Regions from separate parts of the Homo sapiens genome. Here all the other regions are linked to region 2. Evidence: fine-mapped expression QTL. A gene starts in region 2. Each other region holds a variant in brackets. All regions are shown on one strand. Distances are from middle to middle.

The links. PIP is the estimated chance that this variant, and not a neighbour inherited with it, causes the effect.
Region 1: its variant is fine-mapped to the expression of BOLA1 in whole blood (TOPMed, PIP above 0.99).
Region 3: its variant is fine-mapped to the expression of BOLA1 in whole blood (INTERVAL, PIP 0.95).
Region 4: its variant is fine-mapped to the expression of BOLA1 in whole blood (TOPMed, PIP 0.97).

What each region holds. Positions count from the first base shown.
Region 1 is chr1:149,811,281-149,816,430 of GRCh38, reverse strand. It overlaps H2BC18 (H2B clustered histone 18), which reads left to right and starts at 4,061. Exons shown (of 1, transcript NM_001024599.5): 1 at 4,061-4,552. The coding sequence starts at 4,108. The coding sequence ends at 4,488. H3C13 (H3 clustered histone 13) reads left to right here and starts at 2,738. Exons shown (of 1, transcript NM_001123375.3): 1 at 2,738-3,206. The coding sequence starts at 2,750. The coding sequence ends at 3,160. RefSeq lists enhancers at 2,809-3,098, 4,322-4,401. The variant G/A (reference allele first, on the strand shown) is at 3,234.
Region 2 is chr1:149,896,852-149,902,001 of GRCh38, reverse strand. It overlaps BOLA1 (bolA family member 1), which reads right to left and starts at 2,434. Exons shown (of 2, transcript NM_016074.5): 1 at 2,330-2,434; 2 at 1,207-1,992. The coding sequence starts at 1,942. The coding sequence ends at 1,529. LOC124904412 (a long non-coding RNA gene) reads left to right here and starts at 2,454. Exons shown (of 2, transcript XR_007066597.1): 1 at 2,454-2,524. RefSeq lists an enhancer at 2,341-2,400.
Region 3 is chr1:149,841,982-149,847,105 of GRCh38, reverse strand. It overlaps H2AC18 (H2A clustered histone 18), which reads left to right and starts at 4,356. Exons shown (of 1, transcript NM_003516.3): 1 at 4,356-4,888. The coding sequence starts at 4,408. The coding sequence ends at 4,800. It also overlaps the pseudogene H2BC19P and a transcript of H4C15 not described here. RefSeq lists an enhancer at 1,018-1,781. The variant A/G (reference allele first, on the strand shown) is at 2,933.
Region 4 is chr1:149,681,865-149,687,014 of GRCh38, reverse strand. No RefSeq gene overlaps it. Among named protein-coding and RNA genes, the nearest start is that of TRV-CAC1-7, 28 kb to the left of the region's middle. The variant C/T (reference allele first, on the strand shown) is at 2,890.

The DNA of each region.
Region 1 (5,150 bases), 86 kb after region 2:
ATGGCTTCTTCAACTTGGTCCAGGGCTGCAGACCATTCAAGAGAAATTCAAATCAGGCATAGGGCCTCATCAACCCACAAACCAATTCAGCTGGTCTCAGCTTATGATACTTATAACCCTGAGGATACTTGAAGCCAAAAATGAAACATAAATTATCTTATTGGAACATCTATGTTAACTTAGTCCGTTACTTTTGTATTAAAAGTAAACACATGTACATACAAAACATTATGTGCGTAATAATTCATTTATTAATATTTTCTTTTGCCTTCTTATTTCTTGTTAGGTAAATTTTAATCTTCTCTTGTCTATTCCCCCGTGCTACCTAATGAAATTTCTGTTCTCAGTATTCAAGCTGCACAGCCTTATAATTTCTGCTGAAGGACACTTCAAAAATTTTAGGAGGAATATTCCGTCTTTGTTACAACTGAAGAAAAGCAGAGCTTCTTTTGCACCATAAAGTTGCTTCTGATATAGTGGTGGATTGAGACCTTTCACAGAAATGTCACTCTAGTGTCCAATGTGGGGACTAGGTGAAATTGAACTAACAATTGATCTGAATTCTGTTATTAAAGATGACTTTTAAGGCAACTATACATCTGATTGTTTTATTCTGAGAAATGATACCTATAGCCATTAAAGTCTGATTGAATGCCATTTTCTTATTTAAATGAACACATCCTACATTATGGTCAAGACTGCATACATCATAGAGAAAGTATATTGCAAAGAAATGTGATGCTTGGGTGGGCTGCTTTGGGCTATCATCCAGATTCCATGGGGTAGTTTTCCCTTCTAATGGGAATAGTTGGGTGTAGATGTTTGAGAAATACTAGATGATGTGATTGCTTGATGGGAAAACGCTTTTGTGCTTTAAACTGTGTTGGCTGGGTGCGTGGGGCTCATGCCTGCAACCCAAGCACTTTGGGAGGCCGAGGAGGGTGGATCACCTGAGGTCAGGAGTTCGAGACCAGCCTGACCAATATGGTGAAACCGTGTCTCTACTAAAAATACAAATAAATAAATAAATTAGCTGGGGGTGGTGGCTTGCGCCTATAGTCCCAGCTGCTCAGGAGGCTGAGACAGGAGAATTGCTTGAACACAGGAGGCAGAGGCTGCAGTGAGCAGAGATCCTACCACTGCACTCCAGCCTGGGTGACAGAGTGAGACTCCATCTCAAATGAAAAAAAAAAAAAAAAGGTATCCTCTAAGCCTAATGAAATAGAAAGTTTCATCATTACAGTTTCATTCTTTTGCTTTAGAATATTACACAGGCTTTGTTACTTACCCAGGACAAGCCATAATTTCTCTGAGACTCAGTTTTCTTATCTGTAAAGTGAGAAGAGTAACATCTATTTCACAGAGTAGGGATTAAATGATAAAGTGTATGTAGAAGAACTTTAAACACTGAGTAGTGCCTGCTGTCTGTAAGGCATTATTACAAAACTACCACAGAGAGGGATAACATTTGTTCACATCAGTTACACTTTTGTACATTTTAGATCTCTCGAGAGGAGGATGCTTCTGCCCATGAGAGACTCTTGAAGATATTAATTAAGCTCACAGATTTCTACTTTGTGTTTAGTGTTCAGGAAGTCCCCTTGAAATCACTTTTACTTTACTTTGACTTCAGTAGGAAGATAGTTCATAATGACACCATCAAAGTAAGTTTTAAGCGTTTCGGGCCTGCTTTTCTCAGGTTTGAGTTTTTATAGTTTGTAATGATTTTTTTAGTAAAATAAGGATATGATTAAAAGTTTTATATTAACTACTACAACTTTTAAGTATCAGTTGCTTCTACATAACCACTATGATATTTACTGTTCTGAACAATACATACTTCAAAGCACATGAAATTGAAAAAGCAAAGCATCTTTACTCTCTTCATAGAGAACAGAAAAAAAACTAAACTTTTAAGCATTATAAAATACTTTATTGAATAAAATGTTAGCAAGTCAGCAATTGATGAATAATTTGCTTTGAAACTTGAACTTGTAATCTGGCTAATAAGCACTAATTTACAAACTATTCTACATTGTAAAGGAGAAATGAATTTCTGGTGTTGTCCTTCTTTGATTTAGAAGCTTAACATCTGCAGGACCTAATTGGCCATTGATGTGAGGTTGAGGAAGAAGGAACCACATCGCAGGGAGAAAAGACTAAAGGAAGGCAGAGGCTCTAATATCAGGTCAATATAGGTCAGCACACTACCCACATGAAATGGCTTTGGCTGGGTTCCAAGGTCAAGTAAATAAGATCAATTTTTTCATTCCTTCAATTACATATTTTTTTGCTAAGCTTCGGTCATTCATGGTATACAATGCATCTAACTTGCTGAGCAAAATGCCAGACATGAAATAAATGTTAGCTATGGTAGAAGAGCTACAGTAACAGGTAACCTGAAACAGGCTGATAGCTCATAGAAGGGCATGCTTGAATTCGGGGAAAAAAAAAATCTCTGTTAAAATGGGATGCAAAACACTTTATACATTGCTTTTACAAAAGTTAGACTAATTTAAAGGAAAGTCTTCAAAAACAATCCGTGATCGATAAAATTACAGAAAAAAATCAGGAAAGGGGGAAATAATAAGGGAAGAAAGATTAGCAGAACAATCTTCCGCCCCAGTAAAGAGGATTGAATTTTAACCAATGAGATCACAAGTTTGAAAATTTCCTTTTCAGGCCCAATCAAGAGGAGACTATGTCTATAAATATGACTGCCTAGACCCTCTCCTATCAATGAGACAGCATGGCCCGTACTAAGCAGACTGCCCGCAAGTCGACCGGCGGCAAGGCCCCGAGGAAGCAGCTGGCTACCAAAGCGGCCCGCAAGAGCGCGCCGGCCACGGGCGGGGTGAAGAAGCCGCACCGCTACCGGCCCGGCACCGTGGCTCTGCGGGAGATCCGGCGCTACCAGAAGTCTACGGAGCTGCTGATCCGCAAGCTGCCCTTCCAGCGGCTGGTACGCGAGATCGCGCAGGACTTTAAGACGGACCTGCGCTTCCAGAGCTCGGCCGTGATGGCGCTGCAGGAGGCCAGCGAGGCCTACCTGGTGGGGCTGTTCGAAGACACGAACCTGTGCGCCATCCATGCCAAGCGCGTGACCATCATGCCCAAGGACATCCAGTTGGCCCGCCGCATCCGCGGGGAGCGGGCCTAAGGCATATTTTTAAGTGGTCGATCTAAAGGCTCTTTTCAGAGCCACTGCCGTTTTCATCAAGAGCAGCTGTACC[G/A]GCTCTCCATCTGATGTGCGTCTGCCTTGCGCAGCGGTCAGGGGCCAGGGGCACTCGTGGTGGGTGACGTTACAGAACCCAAAGCCCAGCCGTGAGTTGGCCGGCAGTAGAGAAAGCCGCAGAGGCATGGTCCTTGTGGTTCCGGCCGAGCGTTTTCACGCTGGTTTAAGGCTAGAGGTCCGGCTCCCAATTCTGTGGGTAAAGTTTTGCATGGGGGCAAGAGACTATGGGGAGTTTCTAGATGTGGAAGATCCTGAGTGTAAGGGTGGGGCGAGTCCCTTAAAAATTATAAACCCGTTTCCTGGTTTATTTAGGAACTATAAGCTTAATTAAAGCTCAGCATCTTCCTCATTGCATACTACAGGCGGTGTCCAAGCCAGAATAGTAATTTAAGCGGGCGGGAGTAAATATCTGGCGATTTTTAAAAATGGGTGAGGTAGTATTTCAAGGAAGAGAAAAAAATTTCCACAAAGTATAGAATAAAAATGCAAAAACGAGGCAAGAGAGTTAACTTGTCTAGCTGGCGTTAAGATTTCTTCCGTATGCAAGTCTAATGGAAAGTGAAAACCAAGAAAAAACCCCAAGCCGTAGAAACTATCGCTTCACCTAGCTTAAAACTGGTTAGTGTGAAATGGACCATTCTGATAGGATAACAAGACTTTTGTTACAGTGACCATTAAGGAAGCAAGACTAGAATCTATTATTTACATAGACTCCACCCCCTCTGACGACACCGTTGTAAGTTAACCAATGAAAGCGCAGCACTTTGCGAGTCTTCATTTGCATACGGGCTCTATAAGTAGCGCATAACCAGCCCGTTTTGCGGTAGTTCGGATTACTTCTTTAAGTCTCTTTTCTCTTTTTTCGCGCAAAAATGCCGGATCCAGCGAAATCCGCTCCTGCTCCCAAGAAGGGCTCCAAAAAGGCTGTTACGAAAGTGCAGAAGAAGGACGGCAAGAAGCGCAAGCGCAGCCGCAAGGAGAGCTACTCCGTTTACGTGTACAAGGTGCTGAAGCAGGTCCACCCCGACACCGGCATCTCGTCCAAGGCCATGGGCATCATGAACTCCTTCGTCAACGACATCTTCGAGCGCATCGCGGGAGAGGCGTCCCGCCTGGCGCACTACAACAAGCGCTCCACCATCACATCCCGCGAGATCCAGACGGCCGTGCGCCTGCTGCTGCCCGGCGAGCTGGCCAAGCACGCCGTGTCCGAGGGCACCAAGGCGGTCACCAAGTACACCAGCTCGAAGTAAGAGTGTGCAAGGGACGCAATAGATCAACCACCTAACCCCAAAGGCTCTTTTCAGAGCCACTTCAGTAATCGAGAAAGCAGCTGTAAACACTTGTCAGAGCGTTTGATAGCTTTTGGTCAGGTAGGGAGTGTTACCATGGTCACGGATGCATTCGGGTTTAGGACTAAGGAGTTTCCTGTAGTCCTGTAATGAGTTGGCCCTCAGTCATCCCCGTCCAGTCTTACTGAGTTGCTTGTTATCTGTGCTACGAGATTCGAAAGGTTTGACTCGTTCTGGGATATTTGGGAGGGATGGAGGGAAGGAGGCGGGGGGTGGTTCTACACCCCTTCGGCCTTTAACCTGTATCTTTAAAGTCGTTTTCCTTTTTGTTTCTGAAAGTAATGAACGAGATGAGATTTCCCATACAGATGAGAAACCCTCGGTCCGACCTCTTACTATTTCTTAGTGTTTTAATCTGTTTTCCTTACCATATACCTACAGGCGTCTGTCACAAACTTTGTCTAATATAGCCATGTGCTTTCGTCCCTTAGCCTTTTTGCAAGTCCTGACTTAGCCATCCTCCCCTAACTTCCATTCCAGTGACTTCAAACAGGGAGATATATTGCCACCACCCCACCCCCTGTGGAGTATTTGGCAATATCTGTAGATGTTTTGGGTTGTCA
Region 2 (5,150 bases):
AAAAAAAAAAAAAAAAAAAAAAAAGATATATGTTAACCAAGTTTTTTTCTCTAATAATTTCCACATTGAGATTATTGGAAAGTTGCTTCTATAGACATTACTCGAGCTCCCCTCAGAAATATGACAATATCTGTAATGCTCAAAAAGGGCTACATTGCGGGGCATGGTGGCTTACGCCTATAATCCTAGCACCTTGGGAGGCTGAGGTGGGCGGAGTGCCTGAGCTCAGGAGTCTAAGACCAGCCTGGGCAACATGGTGAAACCCTGTCTCTATAAAATACAAAAAATTAGCTGGGTGTGGTGGCACAAGCCTCTAGTCCCAGCTACTTGGGAGGCTGAGGCAGGAGAATTGCTTGAACCTGGGAGGCGGAGGGAGGCTGCAGTGAGCTGAGATCGCGACACTGCACTCCAGCTTGGGCAACAAAGTGAGACTCCATCTCAAAAACAAAAACAAAAACAAAAACGCTACGGGTAGTGGCTCACGCCTGTAATCCCAGCATTTTGGGAGGCTGAGGCAGGAGGATCACCTGAGGTCAGGAGTTTGAGACCATCCTGGTCAACATGGTGAAACCCCATCTCTACTAAAAATACAAAAAAATAGCTGGGTGTGGTGGTGCATGCCTGTAATCCCAGCTACTGGGGAGGCTGAGGCAGAAGAATCGCTTGAACCCAGGAGGCGGAGATGGCAGTGAGCCGAGATCGTGCCATTGCACTGCAGCCTGGGCAACAAGAGCGAAACTCCATCTCAAAAAAAAAAAAGAAAAGAAAAGAAAAGAAAAAAAAGGCTATATAAAGGTTTCTTCATCATCTGTAATCATTTTCTTAGTTCTTATCCTCTTTTCACTGCTTTAGTGGTTTTTAAAAACATTTTTCTTTTAAACAAATACAAATACTACTTTTTGGAAATGAACAGGCTGTAAAAAAGCCAAACATTCCCCCCCTCAAGATGAAATTCAAATGTGTCCCTGCCTATATCCCCTGTCTTGTCCATTAACTCACTTCTCAGTCCAGCGTCTATGTCTTTGCTCAGGTTCTTCTCCCTGCCTGCAGCACCTATCCTCTCCTTTCTGGTTAATTTTGTGCTTTCCTTTAAAGATCCAACTAGATCACTTCCCTCATAAAGCCCTTCCCGACTAGTCTACAAGTATCTTTCTTCTCCCAAGAACACCTGTGGCACTGATTCAGCAGTCCATTAAGAACACAGCCTCATAGTGTAATTTCTTTTAATGTATAGGATTGTTTCCAACTCATCAGGTCTGGTGCAATTCTGTCACGATTTAACATGGAACATCCGGGCTGCCCTTCCTGAATAGTCCAGGGCAAGAGCAGTAGTGAGTGATTCTTCTCTTTTCTCGGGTTCACTTTGACCTGAAGCAAGTTGCTATCTTCGGAGAGTATGTATGGACCCCAACAGAATGGGGCCCAGGGGTCTTCATCCCTTACAAATCCTGGACTGTATCAAAGGGAAGGCCTCGGTAATTCGTGCTCACCCAGCCCATTCGGATCCTGGTCCTCCCTCTCTTGGGGTTCAGGGGGTTCCTAGAGTTTTCTTGTTCCCACCCAGGCATGGGGGGCTAGTGTCCAGCTGAGAGTTCTCTCTCCACTGGGCGGGGGTCCGTGCCTGGATGGCCAGCGCATGGACCGGACCTCCCAGCTCCTCGGCCAGCGCTGCGTGGACCAGCCGGTGTCGTTGTAGGGGGCTCAGTCCCTCGAAACGAGAGCTCACCACAGCCACGCGGAAGTGAGTCTCACTGCCAGGCGGGACCGCGTGGCCACCGCTCTCGTTGCGAAGCTCTAGCACCTCGGGGCTCAGGGCCTCCTCCAACTTCGTGCGAATGGCGGCCTCCACCGGACCGATGGCCCCGGATCCCGCGCTGCCCTGGCACAAACAAACGCGGCCAGCCATGGAGACCAGACCCAGGACCAGCCGCCCACTCAGCATGGGCTACGCCAGAGACTCAGACGCCAGGAGTGAGGGTCGGGGCGATCCGCCTGGTGAGAGCACAATGTCAACACCCGCCCCGCGATCCCCGCATCCGCCCTAACCCCACGCCCGGACGTCCACACCAGCTCCTATAGGGAGCCCGCCTTGATGCCACACGGGGAGACCCGAGACACCGCCCCTTTTCTCTACGTGACGTGGTGAATTCGACCTCCAGCTGTGGAAGTGAAGGGACAAGCGAAGATTAGAAAGGCCCGCACGCGAGGCGCGTTCGTTCCTTAGGGGATTTGCAAAGAATGGGCAAAAGTAGGGCATGTGCAACTGCGTACTTGTGGTTGGGCCGAAGCCCCTGTGTTCCCTGTGAAGCCCCGGAGACGCCCCTTCTACCTGCCGCTCAGCCTCGGCCACTGCGATTCCCGCTCAGGGCCAGGACTCTGGACGCTCCGGAGCAAAATGCAGTCCTGGCGCCCTTCCTGAGGCACGCTGGGAAATGGAGTCCTCGCTGCGCGTTGGTAGCACGGGCAGGCACCACGTGGTGCCCTGAGGGCTCATGGGAACTGTAGTCTCGGATTCTCCCCACTGGTAAGGTGGTCAGAAAGTCTGAACCCAGCAATGCAAAGAAAAAGGGAATTCACGCGCAGTTGGGATTGGGATTATTAGATCTATTTTACTGCCAATAGATCTTGTAGATCATCCAGCCCAACTCCTTTATTTTATATGCAAGAAAATGGAAGTCTGATTGAATACATAATTACTGTGCCCCAGACTAGTGCTGGGGACTGGGGAGTCAAGTCAGGCCCTGTTTTCAAGGAGACAACAGAGCACTGAAGACTAACAAGTGAGCGGACAATTGCAATACTGGGTACTAGGTGCTACGATGAGATAAACACAGGATGCTAAGGAGGCAAGTTACCCAGACTTGGCCGGGGTTGGAGAGGTGGAATGGGAGGCGGGCAGAGAATATTTCCGAGATTTAGGGAAACAGTTCAGCAGAAACAACATGAGAATCCATTTCTCAGTCCCTCATAGTGAGGTTTTGGCTTTGGTAGCTGCATGTGTAAAGGACAGGAGGAGAGAGAATTTTGAGGGAGTCTTTCCTTCTGGTGTAGTTAGGGTGTGGTTATGTGTGGTTGGAGCCTAGGGGGCAGCTGATGGTGATGAGTAGGGTACCAGGAGGAGAGGAACGGGCCAGACCACCCCAGGCCTTGTAGCCCTTGTTAGGCAATTTTGTCTTTATCCTAGAAGTAGTGGGAAGCTACTGAGGTTTTAAGCAGGGATGTAACAGGATGTAATTTTTCCAGGATGATTCTTAACTTGTAAAATTATTTAAATTTTATTTTGTATCCTTAATATATTTACATATTTCTAAATGTTTTTCCCCAACTTCTCATTTTGAAAAATGTCAAAGCCACAGAAAAGTTGAATAGTTCAAAGCAACACCCTCTACCTTTCACTTGACCCACCATTTTTTGCATTTATATTTATTTTATACTTGTACATATATACTCATATATTTAAGTACTTTACATATACTTTAAAATATATTTATATGCTTTTTTGGATGAACCATTTGAAAGTAAGTTGCAGATAGCATGACATTTCACCCCTAACTACTCCAATATGTATCTCCTAAGAACAAAGATATTCTCATACATAACCACAATAACCTTATCACACTCAAGAAATTTAAACTATGACATACACTGTTTTCCCTAGCCTTTAAAAAAAATTAAAACTTCCAGAAAATTTGCAAGATTAATACAATGAGCAACCCATTTATCCACTCTTCACCTAGGTTCACTGATAAGATTTTGCCAGACTTGGCTTTGTATCTCTTTTAATGTATGTGTGTATAATAATAATGAAATAATAATAATTATTTCTGCTGAATCACTTGAGTTAGGTGCAGAAATCTTATTTATTTATTTTTTTTTGAGATGGAGTTTTGCTCTTCTTGCCCAGGCTGGAGTGCAATGGCGTGATCTTGGCTCACTGCAACCTCTGCCTCCTGGGTTCAAGCAAGTCTCCTGCCTCAGCCTCCTGATTAGCTGGGATTACAGGCATGTGCCAACATGCCCGGCTAATTTTGTATTTTTAGTAGAGACGGGGTTTCTCCATGTTGATCAGGCTGGTCTGGAACTCCCAACCTCAGGTGATCCACCCTCCTCGGCCACCCAGGATTACAGGGATTACAGGCGTGAGCCACTGCGCCTGGCCCAAAATTCTTTTTTTTTTTTTTTTTAAACAGAGTCTCACTCTGTTGCCCAGACTGGAGTGCAGTGGCGCCATCTTGGCCCACTGCAACCTCCACCTTCTGGGTTCAAGTGATTCTCCTGCCTCAGCCTCCTGAGTAGCTGGGACTACAGGCTGGTGCCACCATACCTGGCTAAATTTTTTTGCATTTCTAGTAGAGATGGGGTTTCACCATGTTGGCCAGGCTGGTCTGGAACTCCTGACCTCAAGTGATCCTCCTGCTCTGGAACTCCTGACCTCAAGTGATCTGCCTGCCTCAGCCTCCCAAAGTGATGGGATTACAGGCGTGAGCCACTGCACCCAGCCACAAAATTCTTTTTTTTTTTTTTGAGATGGAGTTTCGCTCTTGTTGCCTAGGCTGGAGTGCAATGGTGCGATCTTGGCTCACAGCAACCTCCGCCTCCTGGGTTCAAGCGATTTGCTTGCCTCAGCCTCCCATGTAGCTGGGATTACAGGCGTGCGCCACCACTCTGGCTAATTTTGTGTTTTTAGTGGAGACGGGGTTTCTCCATGTTGGTCAGGCTGGTCTTGACTCAGGTCATCAGTCCGCCTCGGCCTCCCAAAATGCTGGGATTATAGGCGTGAGCCACTGCGCCTGGCCCCACAAAATTCTTTACACTTAATTGCTATGTACTTTCAATGTGTATCTCCTAAGAACAAGGACATTTTCATACATATCCACAATACCATTACCACATCCAAGACATTTAACATTCATACAATACTATAATCACATACAGTTGATATTCAGATTTCCCCAACTGTCTCATTGGTGTCTACTATAGTTTGAATATGTCTCCTCCAGAATTCATGTTGAAAATTAATCCATGGTGTTGGTATTAAGTGGTGGGGCCTTTAGGAGGTAATAAGGCTATGAGGGCTCCACCCTCAAGAATGGACTAACGCCTTTTGAAAGAGCTTGAGGGGGTAAGTTGGCCCCTTCTGTCCCTTCTGC
Region 3 (5,124 bases), 55 kb after region 2:
CTGCTTGCTTTGAAGACAGAGGGAAGGGACCATAAACCAGAAATAAACCTCTAGAAGCTGGAAAAGGCATGGAAATAGACCCTCCCTTAAGGTCTCTGGAGGGAGTGCAGCCTTGATTTCTACCGAGTAAAATTGATTTTGTACTTCAGACCTCCAAAACTGTAAGAGAATGACTGTTGTTTTAAAACCATTGAGTTTGTAGTAATTTGTTGCAGCAGCCACAAGAAACTAATACAACATCTATATAGAATTTTTTCAATAATTGGAGAAATTTGAATATGGATTGCATATTAATATTACTGAATCAGCATTAAATTTGTTAGGTGTAATAATGTGATTGTAGCTATTTAGGAGAATATCCTATTTTTAAGAGACATGCCACCATATTTAGGGAGAAGTGCCAACATATTTGCAGTTTATTTTCAAATGGTTCAGAGGCTGTCTGTGTACATGAGAAGACAAAGATAAGGCAAATGCAGCAAAATTGTAATAATTGGTGAATCCAGGTGAAGGGACTATGGCTGGTCTTTGTACTTTTTTTTCCAACTTTTCTGTAGGTTTAAAATTTTCAAAATAAAAAAATGGGAAATACTTTAAAAATTGTAATCAAAGACATTAGTACAGAAACTTTCATAATGTATTTTATTTTTACAGTAAAATTAATTTATGTAAATTGATAGAATTTTACTAATTTCACTCCCAAGTTACATTAAAAGGCTTACATATGTTTGATAATAGCATATGTAAACTAGAACTCTGAATGATATCCATTGGTCATAATACGTACTATGTAGCGGTAATGGTGACTTTTGTGATTGCACAAGTCTAGAGATGCCCCAAATGACATTGACTTAGACATCTGGTTATTCTAAGGCTGAAACTGAAGTTGAATAGAAGGTTTTAGTCAAATACTGAGATGAAAACTGAGGCAGTCCTGGCGGGGGGGAGTGAGTGTGTGTGTATATATACACACATAGACATCATGCTTCTAAACATTTACAGAAAGAAAGGGTAGATTATCTACAAAAAAATAAGAATCAGACTGATATGAGATCTTACAAACCTAACCCCCTTCTCTTTCCTAAACTCCAGATTCTCATATTTCTGACTTCCTATTTGATATTTACACTTCGATATTTACCAGGAGTCTTCAACATTTTGTTCAAAACAGTACTCTTGGTTTTCTTCCTCCAAGACTACTCCTTACTCATATCAGCAAATAGCAGCTCTTTTCAAGTGCTCAGTGTAAAAACCTACAATTAATCCTTGATTTCTCTTTCAGTCAGCCTATACTAAATCAATTTCATTTAAAATATCTCGGCTACTACTCTGCATCTCCACTGCTACCATCGGCCTCTCCAGTCACATTCTCCAAGAGCACTCTATCTCATTTAAAAGACAAAATCTCTGCAGTGGCCTGTGATGCTCCTTAATGGCCTACATAATCCAGCCCTCAAGCACCTCCGTGATCTCTGTAAAACTTTCCCTTGGTCACTGTGCTTCAGCCACATTAACCAGCTTGCATATTTCTCACATTCACCAAGCTTGTTCCTGCCTTGGGGCCTTTGTACTTACCATGTTCTGTTCTGAGAATACTCTGCCTCAAGATATCCTACAACTATCTTACTGTATTCAGCTCTCTGCTCAAGTATTAACTGATGAAACCTGTCATCCCTACTCCACTCCATGTTCTGCTTTACTTAACAGCAATTGCACATATGGCCCCCTGAATAATATACATTTAGTCACTTATTTTTACTTATCTGCTAATTAAAATGTAGACTTTTTCTATTCTGTTTACTGCTGTATTCCCAGCATGTTTTATCCGAATGTGCAGTGGTTTCTTTTCTTCTCCCTTATCGTGGGAAGTGATGTGCACAAATACACATAATGGAGCCTGAATGTCATATTGCTTTCATACCTGTGTGAATTTTGGTAAGAAAGGAAAAGTAGCGATTGACAGGTAATATAATTACATTAAGTCACTCTCATAGTTAGCTGTTTATTGCTTTCCTGCTCTTATTCTCAGTCCCCAGGACCAAATGTTGACCACTACCTTCCCCCACATATAATTAGGTTATTTACCGAACGCCATGCAGGTGGCTGTTAAAAGGAAGATATATACTTACCTTATAAACTCAACTTTTCCCTGTTGTCTTTCTGTCTCACCCCTACCTCCATGCTTTAAATTAACTTTTCAGGCTTAGGCCTTATCTCTCAGTAGAGCCATATAAGGTATGTGTAAAAGCAGGAAAATGTTTCCTGGGGATGAAGCTTTGAAAAGCTTTTTTTTTTTTTTCTTTTGGCAATAAAATAAGGTAGATTCAGCACAATACCTAATAACTAAAAAATCTGTTTTTAATTGGGTGGGGCAGACAGCAAGTGTGTCATCCTGGAAGATACTATTTGGGATTTTATGTAGGTACATAAGAGAAAAAAGTGAACAAAAGCAAGGGGCTACCAGGACGCCGCAGTATGCTTAACATGTATTTTCTAAGTTTGTATTATGCCTTTATCTTGGTACTTTTATCTTCTGTTCTCACTTGATCTTTTTGAAATGTATTTTAAATCCTAATAAAAATATATAAAGTCTGGAATTAATAAAGGATTAAATGAAACTTTTGTATATCTCACTGAAATTCTCAGAAAAAAGGGGGGTGTGGGGAGGGGGAATTGCCTGGGGTAGTGAGTGAAAATTGTGACCAGGTTCTTACTAAGGAATATGGCAACTGCATAATCAAATGTCAGTGGTTACCAAACTTATGAATCACCTGGTGTTGTGTCATAGATTGTCTATCCTTGCCTCTCGCCCCCAGTGATTTAGATCAGTGGAACTATGTGGGGTTTAAGAAATATACAATATATATTTGTATATATTTGTGTGTCTCGAAAGCTTCAGGGTTAAATAAGTTTTAACTGTTTAGGAAACACT[A/G]TTGTTTTAGGTATCCAGTCTCAAAGACGAAGGCCTTTAAAACTTACTTAATTTTTCATTACATTTCTTGCCCAGAAAATTGTAAAATACCCAACGATAACAATGGGGAATTGTCTATCAGCACTTGACTAAAAAGCTTTACTATCCATGACAGCAGCCTTTGCATTACTCAATTCTGATGGCATTTAACGTCTTGAAACCCAGAAATAAATACCTATAGACTCACAGTACCTGAAAGGAATACCAAATTGAGACAAGAGAGCTATATAAACCAAAAATTGCTTCAACCACAGAATGGAGGTCTACAGGTGCGGAAGGAAAGTTTATATGGTGAGGCTTGGTCGCAAAACTATTAGGAATATTTTCAGGTTACTACACAATTTTGCGAGCTCAATATGCAGTTAACACTTTTTCCCTTGACTCTCCTGAGCAGATTTACATTGACCGCACCCGTAGCATATCGTCTCACTTTGGAAAAGGCAAATTATGTGCACATGACCCTGTCACTACAAGGTAGTTCTCGACCAAGCTACATCTTATAGCTTTATCTTATATTCCTCTCCCATCATCTGCAGGAAAAGGGATAGGTGCTGAGGGAAAACCCCTAAGTAGAACTCACAGTAAGCAGTGGGAAAACAGCTTATTTCACTAACGGGGTTAAGTGGCCCTGAAAAGAGCCTTTGGAGACAAAGCAGCCGGCGACCCGCGGAGGGAGGGAGGGAGGGAGCGAGCGAGCGCCAGGTCCCGGCAGGGACTCACTTGGAGCTGGCGTACTTGGTGACCGCCTTGGTGCCCTCGGACACGGCGTGCTTGGCCAGCTCGCCGGGCAGCAGCAGGCGCACGGCCGTCTGGATCTCCGGGACGTGATGGTGGAGCGCTTGTTGTAGTGCGCCAGGCGGGACGCCTCTCCCGCGATGCGCTCGAAGATGTCGTTGAGGAAGGAGTTCATGATGCCCATGGCCTTGCACCAGATGCCGGTGTCGGGGTGGACCCGCTTCAGCACCTTGTACACGTAGATGGAGTAGCTCTCCTTGCGGCTGCGCTTGCGCTTCTTGCCGTCTTTCTTCTGGGCTTTGGTGACGGCTTTCTTGGAGCCCTTCTTGGGAGCCGGCGCGAACTTTGCAGGCTCAGGCATGGCCAGACCCAAGACCGACACCGACCCCCGAGAACGCAAGCAGAGCGGTAGGCTCGGGGTCTACCGGAAACGACTGTGTACTTACAGAGGCTGTGCGCATGACGCTGCGTTATGGTTCGCGAGTTTTCCGCGGCGCGCAATGCGAGGGAGACGAGATTATGTAAATGAGTGGATTCTGGCTGAGCTATCCTATTGGCTATCGGGACAAAATTTGCTTGAGCCAATCAAAGTGCTCCGTGGACAATCGCCGTTCTGTCTATAAAAAGGTGAAGCAGCGGCGTTTTCGGCGACTTTCCCGATCGCCAGGCAGGAGTTTCTCTCGGTGACTACTATCGCTGTCATGTCTGGTCGTGGCAAGCAAGGAGGCAAGGCCCGCGCCAAGGCCAAGTCGCGCTCGTCCCGCGCTGGCCTTCAGTTCCCGGTAGGGCGAGTGCATCGCTTGCTGCGCAAAGGCAACTACGCGGAGCGAGTGGGGGCCGGCGCGCCCGTCTACATGGCTGCGGTCCTCGAGTATCTGACCGCCGAGATCCTGGAGCTGGCGGGCAACGCGGCTCGGGACAACAAGAAGACGCGCATCATCCCTCGTCACCTCCAGCTGGCCATCCGCAACGACGAGGAACTGAACAAGCTGCTGGGCAAAGTCACCATCGCCCAGGGCGGCGTCTTGCCTAACATCCAGGCCGTACTGCTCCCTAAGAAGACGGAGAGTCACCACAAGGCAAAGGGCAAGTGAGGCTGACGTCCGGCCCAAGTGGGCCCAGCCCGGCCCGCGTCTCGAAGGGGCACCTGTGAACTCAAAAGGCTCTTTTCAGAGCCACCCACGTTTTCAAATAAAAGAGTTGTTAATGCTGGCCACTCTCAGTCCAGCGTTCCTCAGTAGTGAATAGCGAACCTGGAGCTGACGGGACGGGACGGGACGGGACGGGACGGGACGGGGCGGGGCGGGGCGGGGTGTGTGTGTGTGCGCGCCGTCTTCCATCTGGAGCACGTAACTGCCTTGGCTCTTCGATGAGTGGGTCCCCAGTCCTAGGACTTCCCAGGGCAGGTGCAGGCACCA
Region 4 (5,150 bases), 210 kb after region 2:
CTCACTGCTCATTAGCATAAAGACACTCCTACCAGTGCCATGACAGTTTATAAATGCCATGTCAACATGCCATGGCAATGGCCAGGAAGTTACCTTATATGCTTCTGGAAACTCCTCATCCCTTTTCCAAAAAGTTCTGAATAACCCACTTCCTAATTAGCATCTAATTAAAAGCATCTAAATAAATACAGCTAGCTAGCAACCCACACACTGCCCATGGGTTAGCCTTCCTCCACGAGAAGCAGTACCAGTTTAACAAAAGTTGCTTTCTTTCACCGCTGGGTTGCCCTTGAATTCTTACCTGGGCAAAGCCAAGAACTCTCCTGGGCTAAGCCCCAATTTTGGGGTTGTCCTTCCTTGCATCATCTGGTGACCACAAAGACAAGACAAGATGGGACAGGACATGATATAACACAGGACAGGACAGAGTCAAGAACTGTTTAAGGCAGGACACTTGGTCGTGAAAAGTCCCTTACTGTGCTGACCCTGAGATGCCAAAGTCACATTGTTCAGTGGCCCCTAACTTGGCCTTTGGGGTTCACCATTGCCTCCCCTGCAGTTTCAGCATTCAGTGTGGGGACCATCACTGGCTGATACTTGGGTACTCTGGGTTTTTGGCATTTCGTTGTGGTGAGAGTTCCACTGTCACTGTTGGCCTCTCCCTGGATGCTCTGGGGTTTTCAGCATTGACATTCCCTATAGGATTGTGGATTAGAGCTCCTTCCCTGGAGGAGTGTGGATGTCATCTTCTCCGCCCTTAAATTAAAAGATTAAGATTTTCCATAACAGCCAGTTGTGGGCCCCCTCCTACGTGACTTTGCTCAAGCCCATATTGAACTCTTGGTCAGAGGGACCAGGGGTTCCTGGACCCCTGGCCCAAGTGACAACTACCCATAGTGGCAGACAAGCAGCAGCCACCCAAACATTTTGCCCAAATATTTTTCCTCAGTCTCTGTGGCTGCTGGGTAGATTTTCTGGCACCTCAGTCTGGACAACGCTGTTCATGCTTTCCCTTCCTCCCTTCCATGATCACCTTGTTTCTTTTAACCCCTCTTTGCCCAAACTAAAATGCTTTCTTCACTCTGTGGAATTCAGACCCATCATTTTACTTCGCATTCATATTTCATAATCTACTTTCATAACGCTTGGCTAACTGTACTTACATCTTCTCTGCAGGAGGTGGGAATTTGAAAGGGAAAGTAACTGAGCTTTTGCTAGACTTAGAAAAACTTCTGGGTGTAGTAGAGATCCTTGTTAGACATGGGGACAAAGGCGAGCATCCCAAAGGACTCCCCACTAGGGTGTCTTTAAGGCAATTGGAGCAAATTCAAATGAGATGGCTCAAAGAAAAAGAAACAATTTTCTTGGGAGAACAAGAAATTTGGCCTGAAACTTGTTCTTTACATTATCATACTATTTTACAATTGGACTTATTCAGTAAAAAGGAAGGAAAATGAGGAGAAGTTCCTTACGTACAGGCTTCTATGGCCCCCTACCAGGATTCTGACTTAAGAGTCAACTGCAGGATGTGTCTGGCTCATGTTACTTCCAGGCACCAAGAAACCGCGTGGGATATCCTCGATGCTCCCTTCCTAGCGGCACCCCCTGGAGGGCCCATGCCCTCTCCAGGGTCTTCTCAGTCCCCCAGTTCTGCGAGGGGTCCTGCCAGTTCTCCAGTGTGGGATTTCACCCCAATGTCATCAGAAAACCCTCCCTTTTATTTAGCTAGCTCCAGCCTGTATCCCCCACTGCCCAAGGAAGTAAGCCCAACCAGAACCACCAGGAGTGGAGCTCTCTATCAGCCCCTCAAATTGAATCTGTGTCCATTGCTGGAGTTAGCTGGCAGAGATAGGGGAACAATCAGAGTATATGTGCCATTTCCTTTGTCCAAATTGGCTTTCTTCAAGGAGAAATATGGCTGGTTTTTGAAGGATCCAGGGAAGTTTATAGAGGAGTTTGTCAGGTTGATGATGTCCTTTGATTTAACTTGGCACAACTTGCAAATATTATTGTCCTCTTCCTGTATTATAGAGGAGAAGAGAGGGATTCTGGGTACTGGCCTGTGAATATGCAGTTAGAGTAGCTGCTCATATCCAAGGCCATACCATTTATGTAGGGGGAGATGCAGTTCCACATAGAGACCCTCAGTGGGATTACCAGAAGGGTTCCCAAGAACTTGAACATAGAAATCACATGCTAACTTGTTTAATAGAAAGTATGAAAAGGTGTGTGATTAAGCCAGTTAATTATGACAAGGATAGAGAAGTAACTCAGTGGAAGGATGAAAATCCCATTCTGTTTTAGGGCTGCTTGGTTGAGGCACTCAGGAAATATACTAATGTAGACCCAGACAACCCGGAAGGGCGGGCTCTTCTGGGCATGCGTTGTATTACTCAATCTATCCTTGACATTAGGAGGAAGTTACAAAAGGCAGGAATGGGACCCCAAACTCCATGAGCCAACTCTTAAACATGGCCTTTGGAGTTTACAACAATAGGGACAAGGCAGAGGAAGAGGATAAAACCAAAAGAAATAGCCAAAAAATGCAATTGTTTGCAGCTGCTTTCAGCCTCCTACTGCTTTTGAGCTGCCCATCCTGAGAAAGTGTTGCAAGAGTGGCTTTGGGATGCCCAGACAAAAGCCAGCTCATCATCCCCTAGGCTGGAATCAGTGTGCCTTCTGTAAGCAAGAGGGCCACTGGAGGAAAGACTGCCTCAGTCTCCAAACGGAGTCTGAGCTTCTCGGACCCCTAATGGCTAAGAGAACAGAGGACTGACAGGGCCCAAGATTCCCTACAGCTTCCACCAGACACCTTGCCATCTCTACAGAAGAGCCTCAGGTAATTCTTGACATGGCGGGTAAAAATATTGAGTTATTGGATATGCGAGC[C/T]GCCTTCTCAGTTCTGATCTAGTCCTTGGGGCCGCTGTCTTCCCACTCCTGTACTGTAATGAGGATTGATGACCAGCTAAAAGCTAGGAGATTCACCCATTCCTTTAGTTGCACTGTGGGGAACCATGTTTTTCCACAGATTTTTGCTTAGTCTTGAGTGCCTTATTCCTTTACTGGGAAGAGACTTACTTTCCCAATAACAGGCTGCAGTTCCATTTGGAGCACCTCAAGAGAAGGCCACAGGCTGGGAAGGGACACTTCTCCTAGCTCTAAGTTCATGTCTTTACACAGATAAAGAAAAGACGTTCCTTCCATCAAATATTACTTCTCAAGTAGACCCGTCTGCTTGTGACATGGTAGTTCCTGGAAGAACTGCAAATGTTCTCCCAGTCCAGGTTATTTTGAAACCCAGTGTTAATTATCTATGGGAAAAAAAATATCCTTTTAAGTGTGGTGGCCCATGCTTTTAATCTCTGCACTTTCGGAGGCCAAGGTGGGCATATCACTGGAAGCTAGGAGTTTGAGACCAGCCTGGCCAACAAGGCAAAACCCCATCTCTACTAAAAACACAAAAATTAGCTAGGTATGGTGGTGTACATCTGTAATCCCAACTACTCAGAAGGCTGTGGCAGGAGAATTGCTTGAACCCGGAAGGCAGAGGTAGCAGTGAGCCTTGCGCCGCCGCACTCCAGCCTGGATAACAGAGCAAGACTCTGACTCAAAAAAAAAAAAAAGAAAAATCCAGTATCCTTTTAGACCTTTGGCTCCAAGGGCCATCCATCCCCTGATAATGAAGTATGGATTATTACAATCCTGTCAGTCCCAACGTAACACCCCCATTTTTCCTGTTAATAAGCCAAACGGGGAATATAGATTTGTTCAGGATCTTAGGGCAGTTAATGAGGCATTAGTTCCAGTCACCCAATAGTTCCTAATCTTTATACAATAATAACTCAAGTCCCTGAAGATGCTTATTGGTTCATAGTATTAAATTTAAAAGATGTTTTCTTTCACACACCTTTACACCTGGACACCCAATACATTTTTGCATTTGAATGGACTAATCCAGACACTCATGCTGCATCTCAGCTTACCTGGACTGTCCTGTCCCCAAGGTTTTAGGACAATCCCCATCTGTTTGGCAATGCATTGGCAAAAGAGGTATGGGAACTACAGTTAATTAATGGATCCCTCTTACCATATGTGTATCACCTATTAATTTCCAGCCCTACTAGGGGAAGACTCTGAGAAACATACAACTTCAAGTCCTTAATTTTGAAACAAAACAAGGGTATCAGGTATCCCCCCGAAAGGCCCAAATTTCTGTCCAAAGGGTCACGTATTTGGGACACATTCTCACTCCTGGGACCAGGATCTTGACCCAGGGATGAAAAGAGACCATCCTGGCACTCCAGGTCCCTCAAATTCCTTTTTGAGAATAGCTGGATTCTGCTGGGTTTGGATTCCCAGGTTTGGGCTCATAGCAAAACCACTCTACGAACCTCCAAAAGTGAGTGGTTATAAGCCTTTGAATTGCAATGGAGCCTGTCAAAAGGCATTCTTAGCCTTAAAAGAAAAGCCAGGGACAGCCCCTGCTTCAAGACTCTCGAACTTAGAAAAACCTTTCATCCTCTATGTGGATGAATAACAAGGGACAGCTTTGGATGTTCTAACTCGAAGGGTCAGGAATTGCCTCAGACCAGTGGCTTATTTCTCTAAACAGCTAGACCAGGTGGCAGCTGAGTGACCAGGAAGCTTGAGATCTGTGGCTACCATCACTCTATTGGTAGAAGAAGCCAGTAAGTTTACCTTGGGACAACAAGTAGATGCCATACCACCCCCGCCCCCCACCACCCCATGAAGTACAGTACAGAGGGTCCTAGAGGCAAAAGTATACCAATGGCTAATAGGGGGCCAGTTACTTAAATATCAGGCTCTTCTGCTTGACACCCCAGATGTTACCCTTAAAGTATGCTGATTTTTAAACCCTGCTACTCTGTTGCTGGACCTCACATCCCAAGAAACAGATCCCCAACTCATTGACTCCTGGGTGGAAACCATGGAAGAGATCTACTCTAGAAGGTCCAACCTTGAAGACAAGCCCTTGTCTAACCCCAGTGTTGAGTGGTTTAGAGATGGAAATAGCTTTATTCATGAGGGAGTAAGAAAGGAAGGTTAGCTAACAAGAAGTCATTGAGGCCAAGGGTTTACCTTCTCAGAATTCTGCTCAAAAAGCAGAATTAGCTGCTCTAATCAGGACC